Homo sapiens: one gene and its partner. The protein of the gene in region 1 interacts with the protein of each later gene in a pairwise test. Each region holds a gene or a part of one and is shown in the gene's direction. Other genes may lie near its edges. The genes, in order: NUCB2 and NR1I2.

Region 1 (12,861 bases):
TCAACAAATCTTCTTCAGCTAATAGGGTCAAAAATTAAAATTCTGGAAATTTAGAATTAGAAATGAAATCTCAAATAATGTCACTCTCCTAATTAGGATGAACATGGAAACTTCTATTTCTCATCGTGGTCTTCAAGCTTTCCATGATCTCATCTACCTTTGTAGTAGGGGGTCAAATTTTTTTTTTAACTAGACAATTTTAGAAACTTAAAGGAGGCAAAAATTTATTTCTGTCTCCGTGTGTTTACTCATGCTCTTCTCTATCCAAATTTTACCCATCTTTTTTTTTTTTTTTTTTTTTTTGAGATGGAGTCTCACTCTGTCACCCAGGCTGGAGTGCAATGGCCCGATCTCAGCTCACTGCAGCCTCCGCCTCCCGGGTTCAAGGGATTCTCCTACCTCAGCCCATCGAGTAGCTGGGATTACAGGGACCCACCACCACAGCCAGCTAATTTTTTGTATTTTTATTAGAGACGAAGTTTCACCATGTTGGCCAGGCTGGTCTCGAACTCCTGACCTCAGGTGATCCACTTGCCTTGGCCTCCCAAAGTGCTGAGATTACAGGTGTGAGCCACCGTGCCTGGACGACCCATGTTCTAAGAGTCGAATCTGTCTATGTTGTGTTTACCTTTCTTTGCTCTCCCAAGGTACATATTGTTCATATCACGTATTTTGTATATATTCTTTCAGCATGCTTTTTGCCAAGTTGGTTTGCGCTCTGTGAATAACAGTTGAGATAAAATGCACAATTAAGACAATTAAGGTACTTTTCAAGACACAACTAATTATGGGCACTAATATCAATAACATCAATTCAGATGTCTTTTTTGTTTTGGGATATGTTATTAATCTCTGAACACATACTAAACTAATTTTGCATTACTTAGAATAATATGTAAATTACTTTCCACTTTCTAAGGACCCTTTTGAAGGCTGGGTTCTACAAAATACCCTTTTGAGTACTGGGTAGCTGGCAGAAGCAAGTGCAGGATTTAAAAATGTATTGAAAATAATCCTTTAGGCCGGGCATGGTGGCTAATGCCTGTAATCCCAGCACTTTGGGAGGCTGAGGCGGGTGGATCACTTGAGTCCAGGAGTTCAAGACCAGCCTGGCCAACATGGTGAAACCCCGTCTTTACTAAAAATACAAAAATTAGCCAGACGTAGTGGCGGGCATCTGTAATCTCAACTACTCAGGAGGCTGGAGCAGGGGAATCGCTTGAACCTGGAGGCGGAGGTTGCAGTGAGCCGAGATCGCGCTATTGCACTCCAGCCTGGGCAACTAGAGTGAAACTACGTCTCAAAAACAAAACAAAAAACAGGCTACTAACAATTTCAAATAATTTATTCAAGGAAAAACTTCAATCACTTTCATTATTTCCAATCAAAAATTTTTTTTACAACCATGATGTGGTGAAAAGTATACTTAGTTAGAATTTCATGGCCAGATTCCAGTACGGGCTCTGCCAAACGAACTTGGCCAAGTCAGTTAACTTCCTTCTGTATTTATAACCTTTTATAAAAGTAGGGCTGAATTAGATTACAGTAGTCCTCCTTTATCCTAGAGGGATATGTTCCAAGGGTCCCAATGGATGCCTGAAACTACAGGTAGTACCAACCCTTATATACGCTATGTTTTTTGCTATACATACATAATAATAAAATGAATAACAGTAATACACTGAAATGAAAGTTATATGAATGTGATCTTTCAAAATATCTTGTTTTACCTCAGGTAATTGAAACTGCAGAAAGTGAAATCGCAGATTAGGGAGGACTACTGTACCTCCAAGATTATTTCTGATCTTAGAATTCTCTGATTCTAAAATCCTAAAGCAGCCTAATAGAAGTTCAGATAGTAGTTACTTGATTTTATTTTTGGCAGAGCATTTTTTTTTTTTTTTTTTTTTTTTGAGACAGGGCCTCACTCTGTTGCCCAGGCTGACTGGAGTACAGTGGTGTGATCATGGCTCACTGCAGCCTGGAACTGCCAGGCTCAAGTGATCCTCCTACCTCAGCCTCCTGAGTAGCTAGGACTAAAGGAGCATGCCACCACACCCTGCTAATTTTTAAGTATTTTTTTGTAGAGAAGAGGCCTCGCCATGTTGTCCAGGCTGGTCTCAAACTTCTAGGCTCAAGCGATCTGCCTGTCTTGGCCTCCCAAAGTGCTGGAATTACAGGCATGAGCCACTACACCTGGCCTTGGCAGAGTTTTTTTTGGCAGTGTATTTTAATTATCTGAAGTACAGTATATGTAAATAATAAAGAGATTATAATTTTAATAATATGTTTATTGAGTGATACAGATCTGTTTTTCATAAGCCTATAATCTAGGATACTCCAATCCGTTGTTAAGACTGGAAAAAAAGGAGATATAATAGTTTCATTGATGAGTGTCCTTTTCTACAGATGTAGACAACAGAGGCTCTAAGATCTATACTAATGTCTTGATCAGGGAAAAGCTGGAGTCCAACTCAGCTGGTCATACACTTGATATTTTATTTGAACCTCACTTTCCTGTTGACTTTCATTTTCAAAGGGAAAATGGAGGTGAGCACCAGGTTATCTGTGGCCTTTGAAACTGGTGCCATGGAGAAACTCAAAAGCCGTTTATTTTTCTTCACCCTACCCTGTTTCATCATTAGATTTGTGACATTGATAGTAAGAAGAAGCAATCCACGTTTCCTAGCTCAAGGCAGTGTCTTAGAGAAGGAAACCTGAGTCTCTTGCTACAGTTCTGATTTAAGGTTGGAAGGAAGAGATTATGTTGGATGCATTGCTTTCATTGGTCTATGATTGCATCAGGACTTTGGTTCTGGCAATGTTCAGAGAAGAGCTCTAATGTGGCCTTTCAAAAATGACTGTAAGACCGGGCATGATGGCTCAGGCCTGTAATCCTTGGACTTTGGGAGGCTAAGGTGAGCAGATCACTTGAGCTCACAGGTTTGAGACCAGCCTGGGCAACATGGTGAAATCCCATCTCTACCAAAAATATTAAAAACTAGCTGGGCGTGGTGGTGCGTGCCTGTAGTTCCAGCTACTCTGGAGGCTGAGGCGGAAGGATGGCTTGAGCCTGGGAGGTGGAGGTTTTGATGAGCTGAAATAGCGCCAATGTACTCCAGCCTGGGTGGTAGAGTCAGACCCTGTCTCAAAAAACAAAAACGAAAACAAAAATTACTTTTAAAGTTGTATGTCAAACTGGTCTTGCTTGCTTTTTGTGTCGTTAATTTTTATTTATTTATTTTATTTATTTTTTTTAGACAGGGTCTTTCTCTGTCATCCAGGCTGGAGTACATTGGTATGCATGGCTCGACCTCCTGGGCTCAAGCAACCCTCCCATCTCAGCTTCCTGAGTAGCTGGGACTACAGGTGCACACCACTACACCCAGCTAATTTTTTGATTTTTTTTTGTAGAGGTGGGGTTTCACCATGTTGCCCAGGCTTGTTTTGAACTCCTGGGCTCAAGTGATCCACCCGCCTCAGCCTTTCAAAGTGCTGGGATTATAGGTGTGAGCCACCATGCCCAACCTGGTCTTGCTTTTTAAGTTCTACCACTTTGGGTGTTTACAGAACAGATTTTCATATTTCTTTATGTTTCCTTTTCAAGACAAGAAGGGCATTAATATTTATTGAGCAATTACCATTGTCATGCACTGTGCTGGTTACTTTGTATTCATTCTTATTTTCCTCGCATCAACAAACCTGTGAAGAGGTATGAGCTCAGTTTTCTAGGTAGGAAAATCAAGACTCAGAGGCAAGTAGCTTGCGAGTAAATGGGGGAAGTTAGGATTTAATCTCCTGTTTGTGTGTTTATTTTTTACCATGTTGTGTCAATAAAAGTCATATAACTTTCCAAAATACAACATGCATGTGATTACTCTCCTGCATAGATTATTTTATGTTAAATATACCATATGTAAAACAAGAAATACATGTCTCCTTAAAATTTGAAAATATTTTATTTGCTTTTTTTTTTAACAGACTACTTAGAAATAACTGCTTATGTTTACTAATGAGTTTGCACATGAGCTGATTTATGTTTTACATGTTATTTGGTGGGGTTTCAAAAAAGAATTTGAAATATTTCATCTTATTACTGATCTCTGTGACAAACTAGGAACAAAGTTAATTTTTTTAAATTGGTGGTAAGAGTAAAGAAAAATTCCAGTTAAGGATTTAACAGGAAAAGTTGCCCTATATCTTGAAGTCTCATTGCTGAAAAAAATAAGCTTTTAATCTGAATTCCTCCTAGTTATTCAAGAGTGGAGGAATACAGGAAAATTTGGGCATAATAAATCTATATCTATATCTATATATCTATATCTATATCTATCTATCTATCTATCTATATATATATATATATATATATTTTTTTTTTTTTTTCCCAAGACAGAGTCTCGCTCTGTCACCCAGGCTGGAGTGCAGTGGCATCATTTCGGTTCACTGCAACCTCTGCTTCCCAGGTTTAAGCGATTCTTGTGCCTAAGCCTCTTGAATAGCTGGAACTACAGGCACCTGCCACTATGCCCGGCTAATTTTTGTATTTGTTTAGTAGAGATGGGGTTTTACCACATTGGGCAGGCTGATCTTGAACTCCTGACCTCAGGTGATCTCTCCACCTCGGCCTCCCAAAGTGCTGGGATTACAAGCAGGAGCCACCGTGCCCGGCCAACATCTTTGTTTATTCCGGTTTTTGATTCTGTTTATTTCATGTATCTTTCTCCCCTCCTTAATGGAATATGATATAATTTAGTCTCCTTCCACATCATAAAAATTTGGCACTTTTCACATTATGTGACAAATGCATACACTATCATGTACCATTACCACTGTAAAAAGTCTAAATTTTGTGATTTTGTGTCTTTTATTTATTTATTTTTATTTTTTTTTACATTTAGAACGTGTTACGAGTCAGTTTTTAGTGAAAAAACATTGAGCTAGGAGCCAAGACCCATCTCTTCACTATTTTGGTATTGTGCAAGTCATCTTACCTCTCTGGATCTCAGTTGTCTCATCTGTAAAAAGGAGATAAAAATTATTTACCTGCCTGAACGTAAGTACTCAATAATTGCATTTGGTTGCAAAGAAACATGACTATCACTACCACCACCACCAAAATACAAAAAAGGAAAAACCAAAAACGAACTCACAGATGGCTTAAACATGCAATATTTATTTTTTATATAAAATAATAATTGAAATAGCACTCTAGGATGGGTATAGTGGCTTTATAAAGTCATCAGAGACTTAAGCTTCTTTCAGTTCTTTTATCAGTGATCCCTAAGACATTCTTGTAGTACTGGTTCTTGTATGTCCAAGATAGCTGCCAGAGCTCTAACCATCACTGTCATGTTCCAGGCAGCAAAGCATAGGCGAAGAAAGATGCATCCTCTTCCTTTAAGGAGAATTCCTGAACCAAGGCTGAGGCTATAAGAAAGCAGGGAAATGTAGCTGACTGCATGTCTGCCCTCTATAAAATTGGGCTTTTGTTACTGAGAAGGAAGGAAAGATTTGGATATTGGCAAGCAAATAGAAGTGTCTGCCATGATATGAATCTTTTTATCTTTCAGCTCTGAAATCTGTAAGCTGTGATAACCACTCATAGAAGCTTCTATAATTTGCCATGGCAGAGATATAAGTCTGACTATTAACTACAGAAGGAAATAATCTTCATGTAATAAATTGTGTTTCTGTTTTTACTTTTAGCCCTTAATTCATTATAGAAGCTTTTCTGTCTTATTTGTGGATTTGTTCTGGTTATTTTTTAAAATTACCCATAAATGCTCAATAGATGTTTGTTGTACATTTTATGGTTGTGTTAAAAAGAGCTAACATTTATTGAGCTACTTGCTATAATCAAGGCACTAAAATGACAGAGATAAGTTATCCCAAGGGTATCACATAACTAATCATCAGGAAGTAAATTTATATTGAAAGTAAATATAATTCATCTCAAGATACATTTCACTATGGTCACATGAGGAACACTTGCCTTCCTTGCTAGCTAAAAGTAGTTTGTTCTTTTTCTTTCCTTTCTTCTTTTTTTAACCACTTAACTGTTAGTTGTCTTGAAATTTTCTCTTACTACTAGTTCTTGCTTAACTTATTTAGCCACACCAATATTTTATTTCCTTCCAGACTTTTATTTTTTTTGTTGAGACGGAGTCTCACTCTTTCACCCACGCTGGAGTGCAATGGCTTAGTGCAACCTCTGCCTCCTATGTTCAAGCGATTCTCCTGCCTCAGCCTCCTCAGTAGCTGGGACTACAGGCATCCACCACCACACCCAACTAATTTTTGTATTTTTAGTAGAGATGGGGTCTCACCATGTTGGCCAGGGTGGTCTTGAACTCCTGACCTCAGGTGATCTGCCTGCCTCAGCCCCCTACAGTGATGGGATTACAGGAGTGAGCCACCGTGCCCAGCCCCTTCCAGACTTTTCTTTGTGAATATTATATAAATATACCCTATACTTGTCCTGCAAAATGGTTCAATTGTCATTATTTCTATTTCAAAAGTAAACTGAAATAAATAGCTTTGAGAAAAAGAAATTCAGGGAATGGAAATTGGAGTGAGAAAGATTCTAAAGATTCAGTCAATCTTTTAGAGTTTTTAGAAGGGAGACAGTAAGTTAAGATTTTATTTCTACACAGTATATTTGTATTTTTGAAAGTTTTTACATTTTTTGGTTGTATTAGATAGGCACAAAGTACAGTAGTTCTTTTGCTGCTAGTATTGCAGTTTCCTTTTTTCTGATCTAGACTTGTTGACCTCAAACAAAATAATCAGGAGACTTGTGACCATAAAAACAACCCAGTTTTTAAGAGACATTTAACGTTATAAATCACCTGACTGAGAATGTCTGTTTGGTGAATACCATTTTCATGACTTTTAATTTTTTTTAATTAACAGAAAAGTATCATGCTATGCATTGTTTTGTAAGCAGCATTTTAAAAATTGCAATTGTATTTAATAGCTTACCTTCCTCACTAGATTGAAGCCCTGTGAGGGTAAGGACTATGTCGATCTCGCTTACCTTTGTCTTCTAGCATAGTATCTGGTACCATAGTCATTACTTAATACATAAATATTAGTTTAGTTTTGTTTTTAGAAACAAAGTCTCAATACATACATACATACATACATACATACTTATAATAGGTTAAAGGAAACATGCTTCAATTCAGCCATTAATTGAAAAGGAAGAGGGGCAAAAGAAGAGGGTTGAGGAAGATGGAAAAAGATACATAAAAGAGGCTGGGCGCGGTGGCTCATGCCTGTAATCCCAGCACTTTGGGAGGCCAAGGCGGGCAGATCACAAGGTCAGGAGATCAAGACCATCCTGGCTAACATGGTGAAACCCCGTCTCTACTAAAAACATACAAAAAAATTAGCCGGGCGTGGCTGGGTGAGGTGGCTCACGCCTATAATCCCAGCACTTTGGGAGGCCGAGGCGGGCGGATCACGAGGTCAAGAGATCGAGACCAGCCTGGACAACATGGTGAAACCCTGTCTTTACTAAAAAAAACACAAAAAATTAGCCAGGCATGGTGGCATGCGCCTGTAGTCCCAGCTACTTAGGAGGCTGAGGCAGGAGAATTGCTTAAACCCAGGAGGCGGAGGTTGCAGTGAGCTGAGATTGCACTACTGCACTCCAGCCTGTGCAACAGAGCGAGACACTGTCTCAAAAAAAAAAAAAAAAAATTAGCTGGGCGTGGTGGCGGGCACCTGTAGTCCCAGCTACTCAGGAGGCTGAGGCAGGAGAATGGTGTGAACCCGGGAGGCGGAGTTTGCAGTGAGCCAAGATCGCGCCACTGCACTCCAGCCTGGGTGACAGAGTGAGACTCCGTCTCAAAAAAAAAAAAAAAAAAAAAAAGATATATAAAGGAGGAACAGAGACTACTTCCAAGGAAAGAGAAAATTTTCAGTTTTCTGTACTTTTCACCCTGGTTATCTATGGTAATTTTTTTTAACCACTTCCAGGATATCTTGCCCAACAATCAAAACAGGAAACCATCACACATACATGCGCGCACGTGTGCGTACACACACACACACACACACACACACACACACAAAGCAAACTTAATCTGTATAACTATGGGTATAAATCAGTAGCTAAGAAATCTGCCTCTGTGTATGAATGGAAATTTTATTTTTTGAGACATGTTCTCACTCTGTCACCCTGGCTAGAGTGCTGTGGCGTGACCATGGCTCACTGCAGCCTCAACCTGCTGGGCTCAGGTGATCTTCCCACCTCATCCCCCACCAAGTAGCTGGGACTACAGGCATGTGCCACCATGCCCAACTAATTTTTGTATTTTTTGTAGAGACAGAGGTTTCACCATATTGCTCAGGCTGGTCTTGAACTCCTGGGCTCAAGGAATCCACCCTCCTTGTCCTCACAAAGTGCTGGGATTATAGGCAGGAACCTCCGTGCCCAGCAGAATAGAAATTTTGACTTGGTTGAGACAGGGGAAGAGAGATTAGCTTTCTTTTAGGACTTTAAAATTTAAGGAAATTATATCTACTGAATACTAAGAGAAGCTTAAGAACTCTGCTTACTTTGTAATTTTACCAGAGGCTCTGATGCCTTTGGGGTCAGTGCCTCCCATTCTGTCTTGAGATGACTACATAATTTAGAATTTCACACCATCCTACTTTAGAGAGTAAATTATCAGCCTGTCCTGGTTTGGATGAGTCTACTGTTTCAGCCTGGTTCAGCCCAGTGTCTCCTCTTTAGGTCCGTATCTCTCTTATGAAAGAAGAGGGTGATAAAGGAAAGGAGAAGGCCATTCTTACTGACCTGATAGTGGAAGAAAAGTAGGTTAGTTCTCCTTCTTCCTATTGCCTGTCCTTATCACTCATCTCTTTCTTCTATATGGATATTTGTATATTTTCTCATTCATGAAAATCTGTAAACCTAGTAAATTTGCTGTTATTCCTTTAATGCAGACACATTTGACATCTTGGCATTTAAAGAGACTTTTGTGTCATTATTTTTCTGCCTAATGTGCTGGAATACTTACCATTTTTTTTTTAAATACAGTTGATGTTTATGGAGGCCTTATTAAGAATTAGAGTCAGTGTTTAAATTAATTGTCCTAGTTATGTCTAGAATAAGCACTAACAGATTAGAAACTAGTAGAAAACATTCTCCATCAATCAAAAATAAATTTAAAAGGCAAGAAAGGAGAGGAAATAAATGTTAAAGAGGTAGGATAAATAGAAAGCCCTACCAGCCTGAGCAACATAATGAAACCACAACTCTACCAAAAAAAAATATATATATATATCACCACGCATGGTGGCTTGCTTGTGGTCCCAGCTACTTGAGAAGCTGAGGCAAGAGGATCTCTTGAGCCCAGGAAATCAAATTTGCAGTGAGCTGTGAGCTCACCACTGCACTTCAGCCTGGGTGGCAGAATGAGAACCTGTCTCAAAAAACAAAAAAGCCCTATAGAAGGTGGTAGATTTAAAAATCAAGATATGGTATTAAGGCCGGGCGTGGTGGCTCACACCTGTAATCTCGGCACTTTGGGAGGCTGAGGTGGGCAGATTGGTTGAGGTTAGGAATTTGAGACCAGCCTGGCCAACATGACAAAACCCTGTCTCTACTAAAAATACAAAAAATTAGCAGGGCATGGTGGCGCACACTTGTAGTCCTAGCTACTCAGGAGGCTGAGGCAGGAGAATCGCTTGAACCTGGGAAGTGAAGGCTGCAGTGAGCCAAGATTGCACCACTGCATTCTAGCCTGGGCAACAGAGCAAAACTCCACCTCAAAAAAAAAAAAAAAAAAAAGATACGTTATTAAATCAACTTTAAGGGCTAGATGTGGTGGCTCACTCCTGTAATCCCAGCACTTTGGGAGGCCAAGTTGCATGGATCACTTGAGGTCAGGAGTTTGAGACCACCTTGGCCAACATGGTGAAACCCAATCTCTACTAAAAATACAAAAATTAGCCGGGTGTGGTGGTACCCACCTGTAATCCCAGCTACTTGGGAGGCTGAGGCAGGAATCGCTTGAACCCAGGAGGTGGAGGTTGCAGTGATCCGAGATCGCGGCACTGCACTCCAGCACGGGCAGTAGAGTGAGACTCTGTCTCAAAAAACAAAAAACAAAAATGGCTTGAAGAAATCACCATTCCTCTCCCCGGTAGAGAGAACAGTGTTGTATGGGAAAACACAAAAGGTAACAATTCAAGAAAGTGTTTAAAAATACTTGGACTACAAAGGTGAAGAAGTCCTTAGAATACCTTTATCAATTTATTTCGTTTAATTTCTTTATGTGTGCATAAAAATGATGTGAGAAAAATCTATGATATGCCTAAAAATACTTTCAGCAAACATAAGATAGAATTGTAAGTGAAAAAGCACGGTGGTGTAATTTAATTGGCAGCATTTTTTTCTATATAGTATACAATGGTGTGTCTTAATATCGATGGAATCTTTTATCCCACCCTGAGGTCTCTGTCACCCAGGCTGGAGTAAGGTGGCACAATCATAGCTCCCTGCAGCCTAGAACTCCTGGGTTCAAGCAGTCTTCTTACCTCAGCTTCCTGAATAGCTGGGATTACAGGTGCAAGCCACTGCACCCAGCCCAATGGAATCTTAAAGCCTATTTATTTTATTTTATCTTTTTCTTCTTCTTCTTCTTCTTCTTTTTTTTTTTTTTTTGAGACAGTCTCATTCTGTTGCCCAGACTGGAGTGCAGTGGCACAATCTTGGCTCACTGCAACTGCAACCTCTGCCTCCTAGGTTCAAGCCATTCTCCTGCCTCAGCCTCCCGGGTAGCTGGGACTACAGGCATGCGCCACCTCTCCAGGCTAATTTTCATATTTTTAGTAGAGATGGGGTTTCGCCATGTTGGCCAGGCTGGTTGCAAACCCCTGACCTATGGTGATCCACCCACCTCAGCCTCCCAAAGTGTTGGGATTACAGGCATGAGCCACCGTGCCTGGCCCTTAAAGTCTATTTAATAACATGTATATACACACACACACACACACACACACACACACACACACACACACACACACACACACACACACACACACACATATATATATATATTTTTTTTTTTTGAGATGGAGTTTTGCTCTGTTGCCCAGGTTGGAATACACTGGTGCAGTCTCGCTCACTGCAACCTTTGCCTCCCAGGTTCAGGAGATTCTCCTGCCTCAGCCTCCTGAGTAGCTAGGACTACAGGCGTGTGCCACCATGCCCGGCTAATTTTTTGTATTTTTAGTAGAGACAGGGTTTCATCATGTTGGCCAGGTTGGTCTTGAACTCCTAACCTCAACCAATCTGCCTGCCTTGGCCTCCCAAAGTGCTGGCATTACAGGCGTGAGCCACCACGCCCAGCCTCTTCATACCCTTTTGCTAGAGATTTTCTTCCAAGCACCCTATATTAATTTTACAAGCTTTACAAGCTTGGTGCTGGTGCTTTCTTCATCTTATCAGAAGATGATGACAGGAAGTTTTCAGATTCATAGTCTTTCCTCAAACTCTCCTTAAATGATTCATTGATGAAGACCTGGAGGGCTGGCCTTCATGAATCACACCAACTTGTATTACTTTTCAGGCAACCTATTCTTTATTCAGATACACGCTCTCAGAATGTATCAAGAACTAAACTAATAAACACACTTGTCAGGTTATGTAGTGCTCTTCAACATTCAAATCAGATTTAGCTACTCTTCCTTTAGCTCAGCCACCATCCATCAACCCCATACTTCTTAAAAATGCTTAATATAACATCTTGGGGGAAATCATTTTATAATTTAATGTTTAATATGGCAACAACTTTTGGCTGTAGGCATTTACAGCAATGTTACAGTGATTTGTTATTTTCTGACCATTCTCGTATCAATCTTTTTACCACCTTTAGCATTAATGTAGATTTTGAGGCATGTAAAAGAACATCAGGATTTTGTCAGAATTTCCTGTTGACTAAACTCAGCTTTATTTTTTCCTTAAACTATACTTTGCTGGAAGTTGTGCAGCTTCTGTTCAGTATTTTCAGGAAGTTCCTGACAAATTGACATTTGCATGAGTCCATCAATTCAGCCTCATGTTCCTTGAGTTTTTTTATTTATTGGAGGCATAGTTGGTTTCTGCTATCTTCATTTGCATTGTTTGGCTGCTGATAGGTAATCCTGTTGTGTTTTACTAACAAAACGTAACATGGCTTTGTCTACTTGCAGGTATCTTCCTGTCTAGAGTCAGGTAAAGCACTAGTTGTTCCTTTATAAGAAAGAGTAAAATTGCTGTTATTCCCCTAATATCAAGTATTTGCTTCACTAACATCAGCTGCTTTGTTTCTGTGCTTACAAAATAACTTTTCATTTTAATGCCAAATCATAGCTTAATGTTTATGAAGATATTTACAATGACAAGCACCAACAATGCAAAAACTCAATCTGAAGTTATGACAATAATAATAACTATAATAAAGTTCATGCATGTACACATAACAAAGACTATGTTGCTGTTGCTATGTGGCTAATTACAATTTTCATATTCCATTAATTGAGGCTGGGTATAGTAGCTTATGCCTCTAATCCCAGCACTTTGGGAGGCTGAGGCAAGAGGATTGCTTGAGCCCAAGAGTTTGAGACTGGCCTGGGCAACATGTTGAGACCCTGTCTCAAAAAACAATAAAAAAAATACTAATATGGTTGGGATATAAAGGTCAGTCATGAGATAAAAGATTAAATTTACTGTAAAGCTAGAAAATCTTAAGTTTATATATATATACCTAATATTTGAATAAAAATTAACAGAATTATAAGGAAAAAGAGACAAAATCATGATATAAGATTTTCATGTGCTTTTCTAGTGATTGTAGAACAAGCAAA
Region 2 (16,057 bases), on another chromosome or scaffold:
TATACAAATACTGCGGAATGAGATTCTAGCATTAATTCTACTATCTCCTCATTAAGAAATTGGGGAAAGTGTAAATTAGACATGATTTAAGTAAATGTCTTTTTTCTGGTCCTTTGGTGATATTTCTTTTATCTTCTTGGTCCATGTCACCTGTGGGCTTCTCCTGTGATTCATGTAGTCATGTTGTACTTGTCACTTCCATTATGGGGAAGAGCATTTATATTTATTGCGAGAAAGCAGCATCTCACCATCTTCAATTGTCCAAAGTTCACAATTGATGTGCAGAATCTTTGCCAACTGTCTCCATTGCCCCAGGTGCTGCTATCCCTCATGGCTCCTGAATGATGCTGAAAATGTAAGGGAGGTTGGTCTCTTCTAATGTACACTCTGAAATACTATCCTGCTAATAACATTTTCTCTGCCTGCCTGTGATGCTCTTTGATTTTGGAACACTCTTTGTGTCTGTGAACAGTTAGAGGGTTATGTAAAGTCCCTGGGTTTTTGTCATAAGAGTGACTTCCAAGTTATTTGGAATACATAACAGAATATATCTGGTGTGTAGTAGATGCTCAACACATGTCTGTTGAGCAATATGATAAATGCTATGATGATTGTTATGAGGAATAAATGAGTGCCATGTTCTGAATGTTTATGTTTCCCCCAAATTCGTATGTTAAAATCCTCATCCCCAGTGTGATGGCTTTAGAAGATGGGGACTTTGGGGGGTGATTGGGTCATGAGGGTAGAACCCTCATGATTGAGTTAGTGTCCTCATGAATGAGACCCCAGAGGCCGGGTGTGGTGGCTCATGCCTGTAATCCCAGCACTTTGGGAGTCTGAGGCAGGTGATCACTTGAGCCCAGAAGTTGCAGACAAGCCTGGGCAATATGGGGAAACCCTGCCTCTACTAAAAATGAAAAAAAAAAAGTAGCTGGGTATGGTGGCATGCACCTGTAGTCCCAGGAGGCTGAGTTGGAGGATCGCTTGAGTCCAGGAGATAGAGGCTGCAATGAGCTGAGATCACACCACTGAACTCCAGCCTGGGTGGCAGAGTTTTTTCTTTTCTTTCTTTTTTTTTTCTGTCTCAAAAGAGAGAGAGAGAGAGAGAGAGAGATAGAGAGGTCCCAGAGACCCAAAGAGCTAGCTGGCTAGCCCCTTTCACTATATGAGGACAGAGGGAGAAAGTGCCATAGATGACAGGAAGCAGGCTCTTACCAGACATTGAATCTACCAGTGCCTTAATCTTGGACTTCTCAGCCTCCAGAACCATGAGAGATAAATTTCTGTTGTTTATAAGCCACTCAGTTTCCGATATTTTGTTATGGCAACCTGAATGCACTAAGACAATGAGTGACCTTTTACAAAGGACCTGAATAATCATTATTTTCCATTTTGGTATCTGTTCCATCCCATATTCTCTAATACAAAATCTGTCCCAAAACACTAATCCTGAACCTAAGATTGCTGCAGCTACCTGCTGAAACCATCTTTCTCAGTGTACTTTTTTTTTTTTTTGAGACAGAGTCTCACTGTGTTGCCCAGGCTAGAGTGCAGTAGCGTAATCTTGTCTCCCTGCAACCTCTGCCTCCCAGGTTCAAGCGATTCTCATGCCTCAGCCTCCCAAGTAGCTGGGATTACAGGCACGCGCCACCACACTCAGCTAATTTTTGTATTTTTGGTAGAGATGGGGTTTCTCCACGTTGGCCAGGCTAGTCCTGAATTCCTGGCCTCAAGTGATCCACCCATCTCAGCCTCCCAAAGTGCTGGGATTACAGGCGTGAGCCACCACATCCAGTCCCACAGTGTCTTTTAATATATTTACATTTAATGGCCAGGCACGGTGGCTCACGCCTGTAATCCCAGCACTTTGGGAGGCCAAGGTGGGCAGATAACGAGGTCAGGAGATCGAGACCATCCTGGCCAACATGGTGAAACCCTGTCTCTACTAAAAAAAATACAAAAAAATTAGCCAGGCGTGGTGGCAGGCACCTGTAGTCCCAGCTACTCGGGAGGCTGAGGCAGGAGAATGGCGTCAACCTGGGAGGTGGAGCTTGCAGTGAGCCAAGATCATGCCACTGCACTCCAGCCTGGGTGACAGAGCGAGACTCCGTCTCAAAAAATATATATATACATATATATTTACATTTAATATATTTACATTTAACTACCAACATAGTTGGTATTTTTTTTTTTTTTTTTTTGAGACGAAGTTTTGTTCTTATCGTCCAGGCTGGAGTGCAGTGGCGCGATTTCGGCTCACTGCAGCCTCCGCCTCCTGGGTTTGAGCGATTCTCCTGGCTCAGTCTCTCAAGTAGCTGGGATTATAGGCACCCGCCACCACTTCCGGCTAACTTTTTGTATCTTTAGTAGAGGTGAGGTTTTACCATGTTGGCCAGGCTGGTCTCTAACTCCTAACCTCAGGTGATCTGCCTGCCTCTGCCTCCCAAAGTGCTGGGATTACAGGTATGAGCCACCGCACCCAGCCCCATATTTGGTATTTCTACCATACATCTGTGTTTTCTATTCGTCTCACCCTTTCAGTTTCTTAACTCTCTAATTGCCTTCTTTTGAACTTTTTTCCTTCCATTTTTTCCTTTCTATTAGCTTCCAAGTTATGCATTCTATTTTTGGACTTTTAATGATAACCCTAGACATTTCAACAAGCACACTTTACTAATCAAAATCTAAGATTTACCATCTTTTTTTCCCTTCAACAATACAGAACCTTAGTTACTGCATCCATCCATATTTTAGTTGTATTTTGTTTTTCCTAACTCCCAAGATATTATTATTATTGGTTTATGAAGTCATTGTTTATTCCGATTTTTACAGTAAATTTTTATTCATTTTCAAATCTGCTTGGTCAATTTTATGGTCGTTTATTCTTTGTTTATGTCTTCAACCTCTCGTACTGTTTATTTAAACATTTCTGTGTTTGATAACTCAGGGCATTTTCTCATGTCTAATTCTAGAAGTTTTTTTGGTTTGTTTTGTTTTGTTTTGTTTTGCTGACTCTTGCTCATCATGCTGTGCCAGTCTTTTCATTCATGACTTCTGAGTATTTGCTCATATTTCTTTGAAATTATATGTGATTATTTGTGCCTAGGTATAAAGTGGAAAGTGAGTTCCCCCAAAAAGGAGGATTTCTGGCCAGACGCGGTGGCTCACGCCTGTAATCCCAGCACTTTGGGAGGCTGAGGCGGAGGCTGAGGCGGGCAGATCACTTGAGGTCAGCAGTTTGAGAACAGCCTGACCAACATGGTGAAACCCCATCTCTACTGAAAATACAAAAATTAGCTGGGCATGGTCGTGGGTGCCTGTAGTCCCAGCTACTCAAGAGGCAGAGGCAGGAGAATCGCTTGAGCCCGGGAGGCAGAGGTTGCAGTGAACTTAGATGGAGCCACTGCGCTCCAGCCTGGGTGACAGAGCAAGACTTGGTCCCCCCCTCCCCCCCACCAAAAAAAAAAGAAAAGAAAAGAAAAAAAAGGAGGATTTCTGTTGGGTGTCTGGGAGAATTACCAACCCAAATGCACTTTAAATCTTAAATCAACTTTTTGGCTTGAGGTTTTTGTGAACACCTAAAGTATACATTTTGTCTGCAAGCCTACATAAAGTCAGGATTATGATTTGAAAAATCAGGGATTTTCCCCTGTGCCTGTTCAGTTCAGGTTTCCAGTCAATGTATTTTATTCACAGTGTAATGGAGGGCCAGGGTCAGAGACAGATTAATTCCTTATTTACTCTTACAGGTGAAACTGTCAGATGTCACCTGTCATGATGTTGGAAACAGAAATTTATGTGTTAGAATTTTACTAAAGTTTCGATTTTGGCATTAGAAAAAGCATCGTCATCTGTGGTGGTGTCTGCCCTTGTCAGTCAGTGCCTAGAGAGAATTTTGGGGATGGTAGTAACAGGACAATCCCCCATTTCTACTGAACATCCTCAGTGTCTGTTCCAAGTAGAATTCAAGTTATGCTCTCAAGGTGGAAGTTGCCTGGGGAGGACATCCTTGAGTACAGCTCAATTTTTTTTCTTTCTTTTAGAGATGAGGTCTCACTTTATCACCCAGGCTAGAGTGCTCTGGCATGATTCTAGCTCACTGCAGCCTCAAACCCTCAGGCTCAAGAGATCCTCCCCGCTCAGCTTCCCAAGTAGCTGGGACTATAGGCTCACACCATCGATCTTGGCTGTTTTTTTTTATTTTTTGTAAAGATGAGATCTCACTTTGTTGCCCAGGCTGGTCTCAGATTCCTGGGCTCAAGCGATCCTCTTGCCTCAGCCTCCCAAAGCCCCGGGATTACAGGCATCAGCCACCATGCTTAGCTACAGCTCTATTAATAGGCACAAGTTCTTCAATATTCACTGAGACCCCAGCTCTGCTGGGACCACAGGCCATTTTTCTTCCCATGTTGTGATCTTGCCCACCATGCCTCCACTTTTTCCCCATCTGCCTGGCTACTTAGTTGAAAACTCTTTCTGCTCAGCCTTTCTAGCTCCCTGTGGGAGCTTGGGCCACACCCCACCTGAAAGACTATCCTCCCTCAATGTCCCCAGTCCCAGAAATCATCTTGAACAAGTAATCTGTCCATGAGCTGCTCCCCATTCAGACCTCTGGCCAGGTTGTGGCCTCCTAACCTCAGTCCACTCAGCTGTGGCCTCCATGATCCGACCCAGACAGCCTGCTCTCTTTTCTTCTCATTTCTTCCTCCCTCTTACCCTTATCTTTCCCATGCTCCTGTTCACATGTTCTACTCCAGGGCTCTATTTTTGTGTACAAAATGTCATGATTACAGCTCTCTTTATAACAATTCCAACCCCCATTCCCCGCTTTTTTTCCCCATGAGAGGTCAGCTCCCGAGTTCACAGGCCCAAATGTGAGTGATGCATAGAAGGGACAGAGTGTTTCCTCTGAGGCCTCTACACATCCCTGTCCAGTCTTTTCATTCTCTGTGGTTTTCTCATTTCTAGTCCAAGAGGCCCAGAAGCAAACCTGGAGGTGAGACCCAAAGAAAGCTGGAACCATGCTGACTTTGTACACTGTGAGGACACAGAGTCTGTTCCTGGAAAGCCCAGTGTCAACGCAGATGAGGAAGTCGGAGGTCCCCAAATCTGCCGTGTATGTGGGGACAAGGCCACTGGCTATCACTTCAATGTCATGACATGTGAAGGATGCAAGGGCTTTTTCAGGTAGAGTTACCCATCAGCCTTCACCCACGTGCCACCACTGACCCACTGGGTAACGTCTCAGGGCCTCAGCTTGACCTGTCCCCCAGGTTCAGAGTGTGGGCTGGTGGCCCACCCAAAGGCCTTGTAATTAGTCTCAAGGGAGCCATTTATATCCCAGAGGAATCCTTCATCTTCAGTCTTCCTGTTCTACCCAGGAAAGGTCTCCTTCCATTAAGATATCCCTTGGTTTCTCCATGTGCTCTTGAATAAAATGGAAAATGACTCAGTGAAAGATAAGGAATTTGAAAATCCCAAATCCAAGTGTTCACATCCGCCTTCTGGGGTGGTTGTTACATAAAGAATGGCATAAAATAAATGCTTAGACCATGGGAAGAGAAACAGACCGAAGGGAGGGGAAGGGCGGGGAGGGGAGAAAGCCATGTGTGAGGAAGCACTCCAGGTGCACCCTCCGGAGGGCACAGGGTATGCAAGGAGCAGCTCCCATCTCGGGAGCCACATGTGGGACCCTCATGCATTCCCAAGACAGCCAGCCTGACAGCCCTTTGCAGAGTTCTTCGTGGTGGCTGGGCATTCAAATGGAAAAGGGCAGGTTCCAGGGAGAAATGAACATTCGTGTTGCATGAGTTATAACAGGGGTGAGACACATCAGCAGTGTCAGACTGGGTTCAGCTACAAGTCACAGGACACTTGTCGCCAATTGGTTTGGCAATAAGGAAAATGTGTTACCTCTCCTAACAGGAAGTCTGAAGGCCTCCAGGTTAGTGAGTTCAGCAGCTCATTTCTTTCCATTTTTCTCTTCAGCCATCCCACCTGAGAGCTCTGATTGCAGTCTGGCTCCCCTTGTGGGGGCACAGTGCTGGGGCCCCAGGCAGGAATCATTATGTTCAGCAGAAGCGCACAAAGGCCCATCTTTGAGAGTAAGGAAATCTTTCCCAGGAGTCCCCTCACATTGGCTAGAGCCGGGCCCAGCCTATGCCTGAACTAGTCACTAGCAAAGAGCAGCAGGTATGTCCCTGAGCTGGGCACACGCCACTTGACTGTGTGGAAGAGGGTGGATGTCTGCACCAGCTCCAGATGCTGCTGGCACAGAAGAGGCTGCCCAAGCAGTGTTCGTGCATCCTGCCTCAGCATGCAGGAATCTTCTGCTCTCCCTTCCTCATTTGGGTACTATTCCTGGGACTCTCAGAAAAAGGCAACATGTTGTAGTGGGCAAAAGCTAAATCCAGTATCAGGCAGACCTGGATTCAAATTTCAGCTTGTCATGTACCTGGAGGACAGCTGGGGATCCATCGTCTCCAAGCCTCAGTCTCCCTCATCTGTGCTAGGCAGATGAGATTATGAGTTTCACAGGGTTTTAGAACTAAATTTACAAAACTGCAAAATACCTAGCCTAGCATCTGATACATAGCATACCTTTAAATAATGTGAGCCCCGGTTTCATCTTTTACCCATTCTCAGTGGACTTTGATGTAGCATCAGAGTTTTCTTACCCAGGCCAGTTGGGAAGGCAAAAGGCAGGGATGGCATCTGTGAAGAACATGCCCCTGGGCTGGTCACTGGTCCGAGGCCCGAGGCCTCCAAGCTCAAACCTGCCAGGTCACTGCGGGCTTGGCTCAGCTTCCCAGGCCTGCCCTCGGGGACCTCTGCAGCCCTACCTGGCTGTTCCATGCTCCTGGGCCAGCCTTCCCTCAGTTTCCACTCTGGACCAGAATCAGAGGCCAGAGCCAAGGGAGAGATTGTTTCTTTCCATCCAGCTGTGGAGATGGGGAAAGTAAAGGTAGGACTGCACTGACCGTGTCTTTTGTGGGACAGGCAGGACTTCCGGGCTGGGAGGAGGAGATCTTGTACCAGAGTCTCCAAAAGGCATCTGCCCCATTGCCTCTCTGCGCACCGCAGAGAGGGGTGTGCGGGCCCGTGGGTCCCGCCTGCACGCTCTGCTGTTCCAGGCGCTCGACCTCTTTGCCCCCTAGGTCAACGAGGGGAATCCACTCTGCCATGGGGAAGTCGCTGCCCCGTAGGGTATAAGAACTTCCCCATAGTTCACCCCTTCCTCCCTGGCCGCCCAGTCTGGAAGGGGAGCTGGAGAAGGCGGCGGGGGGTGGGGGGAAGGCGGGGGGGAAGGCGGGGGGGTGGGGCGGGCTTCTCTGGTTTCTTACCCTCCTGGGGTCAGGTTTCCTCAGCTCCCTCCCTTAAGGAGGGGAAATCGAGGAAGAGGCCCATCTCCATGGAAACTTTCTGGTAACAAGGCTGTGAAAGAGAAGGGGACAGGTGTTTCAGGAAGAAGGGAAGGCGCTGAGGATGGGCCTGGAGAGGAAGTGTCCCTGAAAGTGGTTTTGGGGCTGCCCGCGCCAGCGAAAAGCACGTGTCCCATTTCCTGCCGGAATGGCCAGAAAAGGTCTCCTCCCCGGCTCTGCCCCCTCTAGCTGAGTCCTGGACCTCTAGGGACTCCCACCTACACCCTTCCCATAAAGCCTGACCCAGCTGGGACGCAAAGGCTAGTGTCCCCCTCCCCGAGTCGGTAGGGGCTGGGGAGGGAGGTGGTATGGCCCGGAGCCCCAGGCCGAGGGCCCGGGCACCCGTGCATCCCCCCTTCTGCTCCCCATTCTCTCACAGGAGGGCCATGAAACGCAACGCCCGGCTGAGGTGCCCCTTCCGGAAGGGCGCCTGCGAGATCACCCGGAAGACCCGGCGACAGTGCCAGGCCTGCCGCCTGCGCAAGTGCCTGGAGAGCGGCATGAAGAAGGAGAGTGAGCAGTGGGCGCGCGGGCGGGCCGGCGCCGGGGTGCACGGCTCTGAGTAAGGACGTGCCGTGGGTGTGGGCATGCTTGTGTGGAGATGCGCGCCGAGTGTGCGCGTGAACACACGTGCACATGTGAGCTGGTGTCCGTGTGCAACAGGCAGCCACCTGGGGGAGCGCTTGCAGTCGGCCCTCTGGGAGATGGAGGGAGTCGGTAATCTCTGCCCTGGGATGTGTGCTGGGCAGCCCTGGACAGGGCGTGCCCTCTGTCTCCCCTCAGTTGCTCCTGCATCATTCTTTTTGTCCCCTTCATAATTGTTGTAATGGTTTGAAACCACATTTGCGGGTAGGAGTGTGAATCTGGGGGAGGGAAGCAGGAGCCACATGGGTGATAGGACCCGGGGCCTTCTAGGTGCTAGCCCCATCAGCTGCCCCAGACCTGGATCTTTATAGGGGAACTGTTTGCAGACAGGTGACATGAGGTGTTCTCATTCTACCTATTTAACTTTGATATATTTGTGCTCCTAGGTCACTATGAGATTAAGGCTCATGCGGAAAAGGCTAGGTGTTTCTAGTGCATATTTGTCTCCATGGAACACAAAGGGACCCAAAGCTGCTTCTTTCAAGGACAAGTTCTCTAGGCTGCTGGCAGGCATTCTTGATCTCTCCCCACCAAGGACCTCATAGCTTTGTTCTACACACATGAGTGGGCTCCAGAAATCCACAGAAGACCCTAAGGCTCTGGGCTATATAAGAAGTCTCTGGAGTTGCTATTTCTTGCTAAGCTGTAGCCCAGCTCTCTAGGGTCTTGGAGACCCAGACACCTCTGAAGAGTCTTGGTATATAATTCACCAGAAAATGATAATTGTAGATGCCATTTACTGAACATCTCTTATGTACCAGGAACTATATTAGGCACCCTACATGCAAGGTCTCATTTAACAGCGGTGCGAGGTAAACACGGTTTCTCCGGATCACAAAGGAGAAACCTGGAGGCAGGAGAGGTTAAGGAGGTTGCTTGGGGTCACAGGTAGTAAGTGGCAAAGCTTTCATGCAAACCCAGCGCCTTTGGATTCTGAAGCCCGTGCTCTTGCCAGGGCCCCACAGTGTCCTCACAAACTCCACTGCAGAGGGCAAAACACCAGCCTCACCTCATCTCTGTCCTCACCCAAGTGTTTCTCCAGAAGAGCCCACAGGCCTCTTGAGTCCAGACAGGGGAGAATTGCTTGTCACCATTACTTTCTCTTTTGCCTAACGGCTTCTGCTGCCTTGAGAGGGTTACACAGTGGCTCTCCAGGGGGCTGGAGGCTCACCAGGGGCACGTGTGCCTGAGCCAGCCTCACTGTCCCTGCAGTGATCATGTCCGACGAGGCCGTGGAGGAGAGGCGGGCCTTGATCAAGCGGAAGAAAAGTGAACGGACAGGGACTCAGCCACTGGGAGTGCAGGGGCTGACAGAGGAGCAGCGGATGATGATCAGGGAGCTGATGGACGCTCAGATGAAAACCTTTGACACTACCTTCTCCCATTTCAAGAATTTCCGGGTAGGAGGAACTGCACAGTGACCCGAGGTGTCACTGCCATCTTCATTCTCACATAGAAACTGAGGTTCCCCAAGGATAAGAAACTTATACAAGGTCACAGCTAATCAGTGGTGGAGGGTAGATTTGGAGAGCTGGTCCTGCATCTGTGCTAGCTCCTCAAAGCCTTAGTCTCATTCCCAAAGGTTCTGAAAGTGTGGTCCCTGGGTCAGCAGCATCAGCATGCAGATTTTCAGGTCACCTCAGATCTCCTGAATCTGAAGCTCCAGGGAGGGGCAGGACCCCCCGGTGATTCTGTTGCAGGTTCAGGTTTGAAAAATCACTGCTCTCTCCTTTAAGGCAGGTAGGAACTGGGTCTAAGCAATAAGTGGAGGGAAAGCTAGGCAGTTCCCCAGTGTTGCTGGCATTCGGGGCTTTATGAGGACAGGATCAGGACCTGTTGGGGGTGTGACTTTTGTGAACTGGTGTTTCTTGATCCCAGCACATTAACTATGTCTGTGCTCTAAGTGCCCTCCTTCCCCTTTGCACTGATAGATATCTCAAGTGGCCCTTCACAGCCCAAATAACTGGATTAGCCCAGTGACCTCAGATCTGCTCTTCCCATCCATAGCACCCTAAACCTTCTGAGTCTCCTGAGCCCAACATCTGGAATGCTTGGGATGACACACCATGGTTGCAGTCCCCCTTACCCTCCATTTTAACCAAGCAGGGATGTGTGTGACCATTAATTCATAGATCCCCAAAGCACCTTCATCTGATAGAGAACACCAGAGAGAAGAAACAAATGCTGTGTGTGTATATGTGTGAGGACACACGCATGCATGTGGGTGTGAATGCCTGCATTTGTGCATCCTCTCGAGCTGCAACTGTGGCTGTGCATGTTTGGCTGGGGCCTGAGTTGGGACCTGTCTATGAAAGCACATGCTGTCTCTCCTCTGTCCACCTCCTGGCATGTGTCCTAGCTGCCAGGGGTGCTTAGCAGTGGCTGCGAGTTGCCAGAGTCTCTGCAGGCCCCATCGAGGGAAGAAGCTGCCAAGTGGAGCCAGGTCCGGAAAGATCTGTGCTCTTTGAAGGTCTCTCTGCAGCTGCGGGGGGAGGATGGCAGTGTCTGGAACTACAAACCCCCAGCCGACAGTGGCGGGAAAGAGATCTTCTCCCTGCTGCCCCACATGGCTGACATGTCAACCTACATGTTCAAAGGCATCATCAGCTTTGCCAAAGTCATCTCCTACTTCAGGTAGGACATGGAGACTGGGTGGTTGGGTGTGGAAAAGAACTGGAAGTGGCCAGGAGGTTCAAAGGGCCTGGGGTAGATCCTGAATTTGGGGGATATTGGTGTCAGAAGACCCTCCTTTTCCTGTGCCCTTTCCCCGGGCAGCCAGTGCTGCTGGGGAGTAGAGCCCTTGCTGTATGGCTGGTTAGTTTTGTGGCTGTGGGCCTGCCAGTGTCTCTGCCTCTTCACCTGCTCAATGGAAGCTAAAAATGCCTCCCCTGCAGGGCTGTTCTGTGAAATAAGAACACATCCGAAGAACACCCAGCACAGAGTGGGCATTCAGATAGTCTTTTGTACTCTCCCTTAAAGGGGCAGGAATCACATGTTGACAGTTCCAGAGCAAGGAATGAGAGGAATAGAAAAGATAAGGCTGTGAAGGCCATGGGGAGGGCGGGTGGTCCTCAGAGCCCAAGGGTCAGGTCTCCCCAGAGCTAGATGTGGAGGCAACAACCATCGGGCAACTGGGGTTAGTGGGAGACATGGGAACTTCCTGGGGTGGCAGGAACCACAGCCCCAGAATATGTGTGCAGTCGTAGGATTAGGGATGGTGCCAGGTGTATCTGTCCTTGGGTAGGCCACCTTGCCTTGCCAAGCCTGGTCAAGTGGGGCTGAAACACACCTGCCACAAGCTCCTGGTTTCTTCAGCAGGTTGAGGGTAGGTTATACTCTAGGAGCCCAGAGGTTCTTCTCTGGCCCTGTAGGAGTCATGCGTGACTTATTTAATGGGGTGATGCTGACAGCAGGTTTGGAATGGGGTTCAGATGGTAGCAAATAAGCTTAAAGGGGCAGGGAGAGAAGAATACTTATAAATGTGGACATTGGGAGATCTTTGGTGAAATCCAGTGACTGACAATTTAACACCAGGGCTTCCCACTTGCTATTTCTCAAGGCCACCAATGTCGAGCACAGTGACCTGAGGTGTCACTGCCATCTTCATTCTCAGATAGAAACTGAAGTTCCCCAAGGATAAGAAACTTGTACAAGGTCACAGCTAATCAGTGGTGGAGGCTAGATTTGGAAGTACCAAAGCCAGCTCGATGCCAGGTCCTAAGCTGGGCAATGGGGAGGCACAGAAGAATAAGATCAATTACATGGCATTTGTAGCTCAGTGTTAGGGATCTAAAAGAAGGATGGGCGCCAGTAGCACAGGGTCTGAATTCCCAAGGCCAAGAGGTAGTGTTTCCTCAAAACCCAGAGTAAGCAGCCTCCCTCTCAGGCTGTGAAGCTTCCTCCTTGTAAGGAATGCCTCCTTACTGGGGAGGTGGGGGCCCCTCCCAGGTTGGGAGGGAGTGATCCCTGCAGGACCGGAAGGGTATCCATGTAACCATAATCTCAGAGGCTTGTTAAGCCGCCTCCATGGTTAGGCCTGTGCTTCAGCGCTAGGAGTGGGGCTTCAGGCATCTGGGCTGCAGGGAAACAGTAGAAATACATGTGTGCACATTAAACCCAACACCGACAGCAGGAAGCAAACATCCCCACTACTGGAACTCAGGCCAAAAGGGCGGCACTTTCACTCTGGAAAGGGGAGACTGCACTCTGGAAAGACTTCTGAGAGGGGCAAAGACATAGCATGGCCTGAGGGGCTAGCAGGATATACTAAAGGGGAAGTCATTCCAAGGGGGAAACTGAGGCAGAAAGGAGGAGGCCAGGGACCAGAAGCCAAAGCACTAGCTGTAGGTCAGGATTTGTATAGGAGCTGAAGGAGATGGGGCCAGCCTGTAAGGGACCTGGATGCCAAGCTCAGTGGGTGGAGTTCCCGGAGGTTGGAGGGGAGGAGAGGATGCTGCGGGGCAGAGCTGTCTGCTGGGTTGTGAGGGGAGAGATGAGAGGCAGCCAGACAGCAGCCACAGTCATCCTCAGGGAAAGGAGCCATCCTCCCTCTTCCTCTCGCCCCCAACTTCTGGATTATGGGATGGCTGCTGGTGCCGGTCTGTGGGCTGCCTCCCAGGGAGCTGTCCTCCCCTCCCCATCCTTGCTGCCAGGGACTTGCCCATCGAGGACCAGATCTCCCTGCTGAAGGGGGCCGCTTTCGAGCTGTGTCAACTGAGATTCAACACAGTGTTCAACGCGGAGACTGGAACCTGGGAGTGTGGCCGGCTGTCCTACTGCTTGGAAGACACTGCAGGTGCCCGAGAGAGCCTGCCTGCCCTGGCAGAGGGAGGGAAACACTGCAGTTATGGGAGGAAGGGAGCTACGCCAGGATATGCAGGTTCTGGGATGGCAGGGCAGGAAGATGGAATGGTGGAAAACAAGATATTGGTGAGGGATGATTAGATCTTGGTCAGCTTGCTGAGAAGCTGCCCCTCCATCCTGTTACCATCCACAGGTGGCTTCCAGCAACTTCTACTGGAGCCCATGCTGAAATTCCACTACATGCTGAAGAAGCTGCAGCTGCATGAGGAGGAGTATGTGCTGATGCAGGCCATCTCCCTCTTCTCCCCAGGTGAGGATCTCCCCTAGGCTGCCTGACATCCCCCCCAGCCTTATCTGCCCTCCCCAGGGAAGGTCCCAGTCTATGGCCTTGCTCCTCATTCACTGCGCAGCCAGGATGGGGGCTCTCGCTGGTTTCTCCTGGGGTCAGTGGGTGATGCCCAGCCCTGGTCTTCCTTCACTTCCCTGCCTGGGTGACTCCAGCTCTGGAGGGTGGTTGGCGAGCAATGCCCTGACTCTGGGCTGGACTGAGCTTGTCTTTGCCCCATGATCTTGCACCACACCTCCCTCCCCTCCAGACCGCCCAGGTGTGCTGCAGCACCGCGTGGTGGACCAGCTGCAGGAGCAATTCGCCATTACTCTGAAGTCCTACATTGAATGCAATCGGCCCCAGCCTGCTCATAGGTGAGCACAGCAGGGGGTGAGGACCCGTGAGGGTGATGTGAGGGAGCCGAGGTTCAGGGAAATTGCCCAAGACTTCATGGCCAGAGGGTGGCATCTGGAGGTAGCCCCAGCCAGACCAGGTCCAAAGCTCACACTTTTGAGCACTACCTAACCACTTCCCAGGAAAAACACAAGCAAACAGGGGGACGTGGCCCAGAAAGGGGCTTCTATACCTTCACTGGTCCTCAGTAGCTCCTGTGACCTACTGCCCAGACTGATGCCCACAGACCCAGAGACAAACTTGGATTTTACGGAGCCCAAGGCCATGAAGGGTTAAGGCCAACACTGAGTATTATAGTGTGAACCTATAAACTGAAATCCTTATTTGGCCTGCACAGCTTTCTTTTTGGCTTGGTGTCCTGGGATGCTGGGAGTGGCCATGTCTTTATTTGCTCAACCCTTCCTTGTATGGAGGCAGGAGGCTGGAAGTGCCAACTTTCTTTTCCATCATGGGGATACTGAGGCATATGGTACATCTCAGACACTAGATCCAAAGCTAGTTCCAGGAAGGGATTCCAGCCTGCAGCCCCTAACCTCCACAACGACTCTGCTCAGTCCTGGCCCCTGGACATTAACGAAGGCAGTGACAGCCCCACACCCCCAAACTGGTAGCTGCAATATCTACATTTTCCCACGGAAGTCTCTGTGTACAAAGATGCAACTCCCGCAGCTGGGTGTCGTGGCTCACACCTATAATCCCAGCACTTTGAGAGGTCAAGACAGGAGGATCCCTTGGGGCCAGGAGTTCAAAACCAGCCTAGGCAACATAGCCAGACCCCAACTCTAGAAAAATTTTAAAAAATTAGCCAGGTATGGTGGCATGTGCTCTAGTCCTAGCTACCCAGGAGGCTGAGGCTGGAGGTCTCTTGAGTCCAGGAGTTTGACACTGCAGTGAGTCCATGATCGTGCCATCATGCTCTAGCCTGGGTGACAGAACGAGATCCTGTCCCTTTAAAGAAAAAAAAAAAAAAAAGACACAGCTCCCATGAATGGGATGGGAGTGGGGAGAGTATTGGGCAGGCTGTTCTGCCTTTCTCATCTACAGGGTAAAAGAGAAGCTTACGGAATTCAGCCAAGCCTTGTCTCTTGGCTGACCTGAAATGTCCAGAGATTATGCTTGTGCAGCCTCAGAGCAGCCCTGAGGCTTGTGGGTCAGGGCGGGCTGCACCCACAATCTTTTCTCTGGCTGGCATGCAGGTTCTTGTTCCTGAAGATCATGGCTATGCTCACCGAGCTCCGCAGCATCAATGCTCAGCACACCCAGCGGCTGCTGCGCATCCAGGACATACACCCCTTTGCTACGCCCCTCATGCAGGAGTTGTTCGGCATCACAGGTAGCTGAGCGGCTGCCCTTGGGTGACACCTCCGAGAGGCAGCCAGACCCAGAGCCCTCTGAGCCGCCACTCCCGGGCCAAGACAGATGGACACTGCCAAGAGCCGACAATGCCCTGCTGGCCTGTCTCCCTAGGGAATTCCTGCTATGACAGCTGGCTAGCATTCCTCAGGAAGGACATGGGTGCCCCCCACCCCCAGTTCAGTCTGTAGGGAGTGAAGCCACAGACTCTTACGTGGAGAGTGCACTGACCTGTAGGTCAGGACCATCAGAGAGGCAAGGTTGCCCTTTCCTTTTAAAAGGCCCTGTGGTCTGGGGAGAAATCCCTCAGATCCCACTAAAGTGTCAAGGTGTGGAAGGGACCAAGCGACCAAGGATGGGCCATCTGGGGTCTATGCCCACATACCCACGTTTGTTCGCTTCCTGAGTCTTTTCATTGCTACCTCTAATAGTCCTGTCTCCCACTTCCCACTCGTTCCCCTCCTCTTCCGAGCTGCTTTGTGGGCTCCAGGCCTGTACTCATCGGCAGGCGCATGAGTATCTGTGGGAGTCCTCTAGAGAGATGAGAAGCCAGGAGGCCTGCACCAAATGTCAGAAGCTTGGCATGACCTCATTCCGGCCACATCATTCTGTGTCTCTGCATCCATTTGAACACATTATTAAGCACCGATAATAGGTAGCCTGCTGTGGGGTATACAGCATTGACTCAGATATAGATCCTGAGCTCACAGAGTTTATAGTTAAAAAAACAAACAGAAACACAAACGATTTGGATCAAAAGGAGAAATGATAAGTGACAAAAGCAGCACAAGGAATTTCCCTGTGTGGATGCTGAGCTGTGATGGCGGGCACTGGGTACCCAAGTGAAGGTTCCCAAGGACATGAGTCTGTAGGAGCAAGGGCACAAACTGCAGCTGTGAGTGCGTGTGTGTGATTTGGTGTAGGTAGGTCTGTTTGCCACTTGATGGGGCCTGGGTTTGTTCCTGGGGCTGGAATGCTGGGTATGCTCTGTGACAAGGCTACGCTGACAATCAGTTAAACACACCGGAGAAGAACCATTTACATGCACCTTATATTTCTGTGTACACATCTATTCTCAAAGCTAAAGGGTATG

The links.
Region 2: the proteins of NUCB2 (region 1) and NR1I2 interact in a two-hybrid assay, tested with the Homo sapiens proteins (one study listed by BioGRID).

Annotation. Positions count from the first base shown.
Region 1 is NC_000011.10:17,277,891-17,290,751, forward strand, and holds part of NUCB2 (nucleobindin-2 isoform 1 preproprotein), read left to right. Parts: intron 1-4,898; 5' UTR 4,899-5,053; intron 5,054-8,743; exon of another isoform or gene 8,744-8,827; intron 8,828-12,861. UniProt on the Homo sapiens protein: Calcium-binding protein which may have a role in calcium homeostasis. Acts as a non-receptor guanine nucleotide exchange factor which binds to and activates guanine nucleotide-binding protein (G-protein) alpha subunit GNAI3.
Region 2 is NC_000003.12:119,802,261-119,818,317, forward strand, and holds part of NR1I2 (nuclear receptor subfamily 1 group I member 2), read left to right. Parts: intron 1-4,968; coding exon of another isoform or gene 4,969-4,990; coding exon 4,991-5,187; intron 5,188-7,800; coding exon 7,801-7,934; intron 7,935-9,278; coding exon 9,279-9,466; intron 9,467-10,425; coding exon 10,426-10,700; intron 10,701-12,718; coding exon 12,719-12,861; intron 12,862-13,062; coding exon 13,063-13,179; intron 13,180-13,465; coding exon 13,466-13,571; intron 13,572-14,807; coding exon 14,808-14,952; 3' UTR 14,953-16,057. UniProt on the Homo sapiens protein: Nuclear receptor that binds and is activated by variety of endogenous and xenobiotic compounds.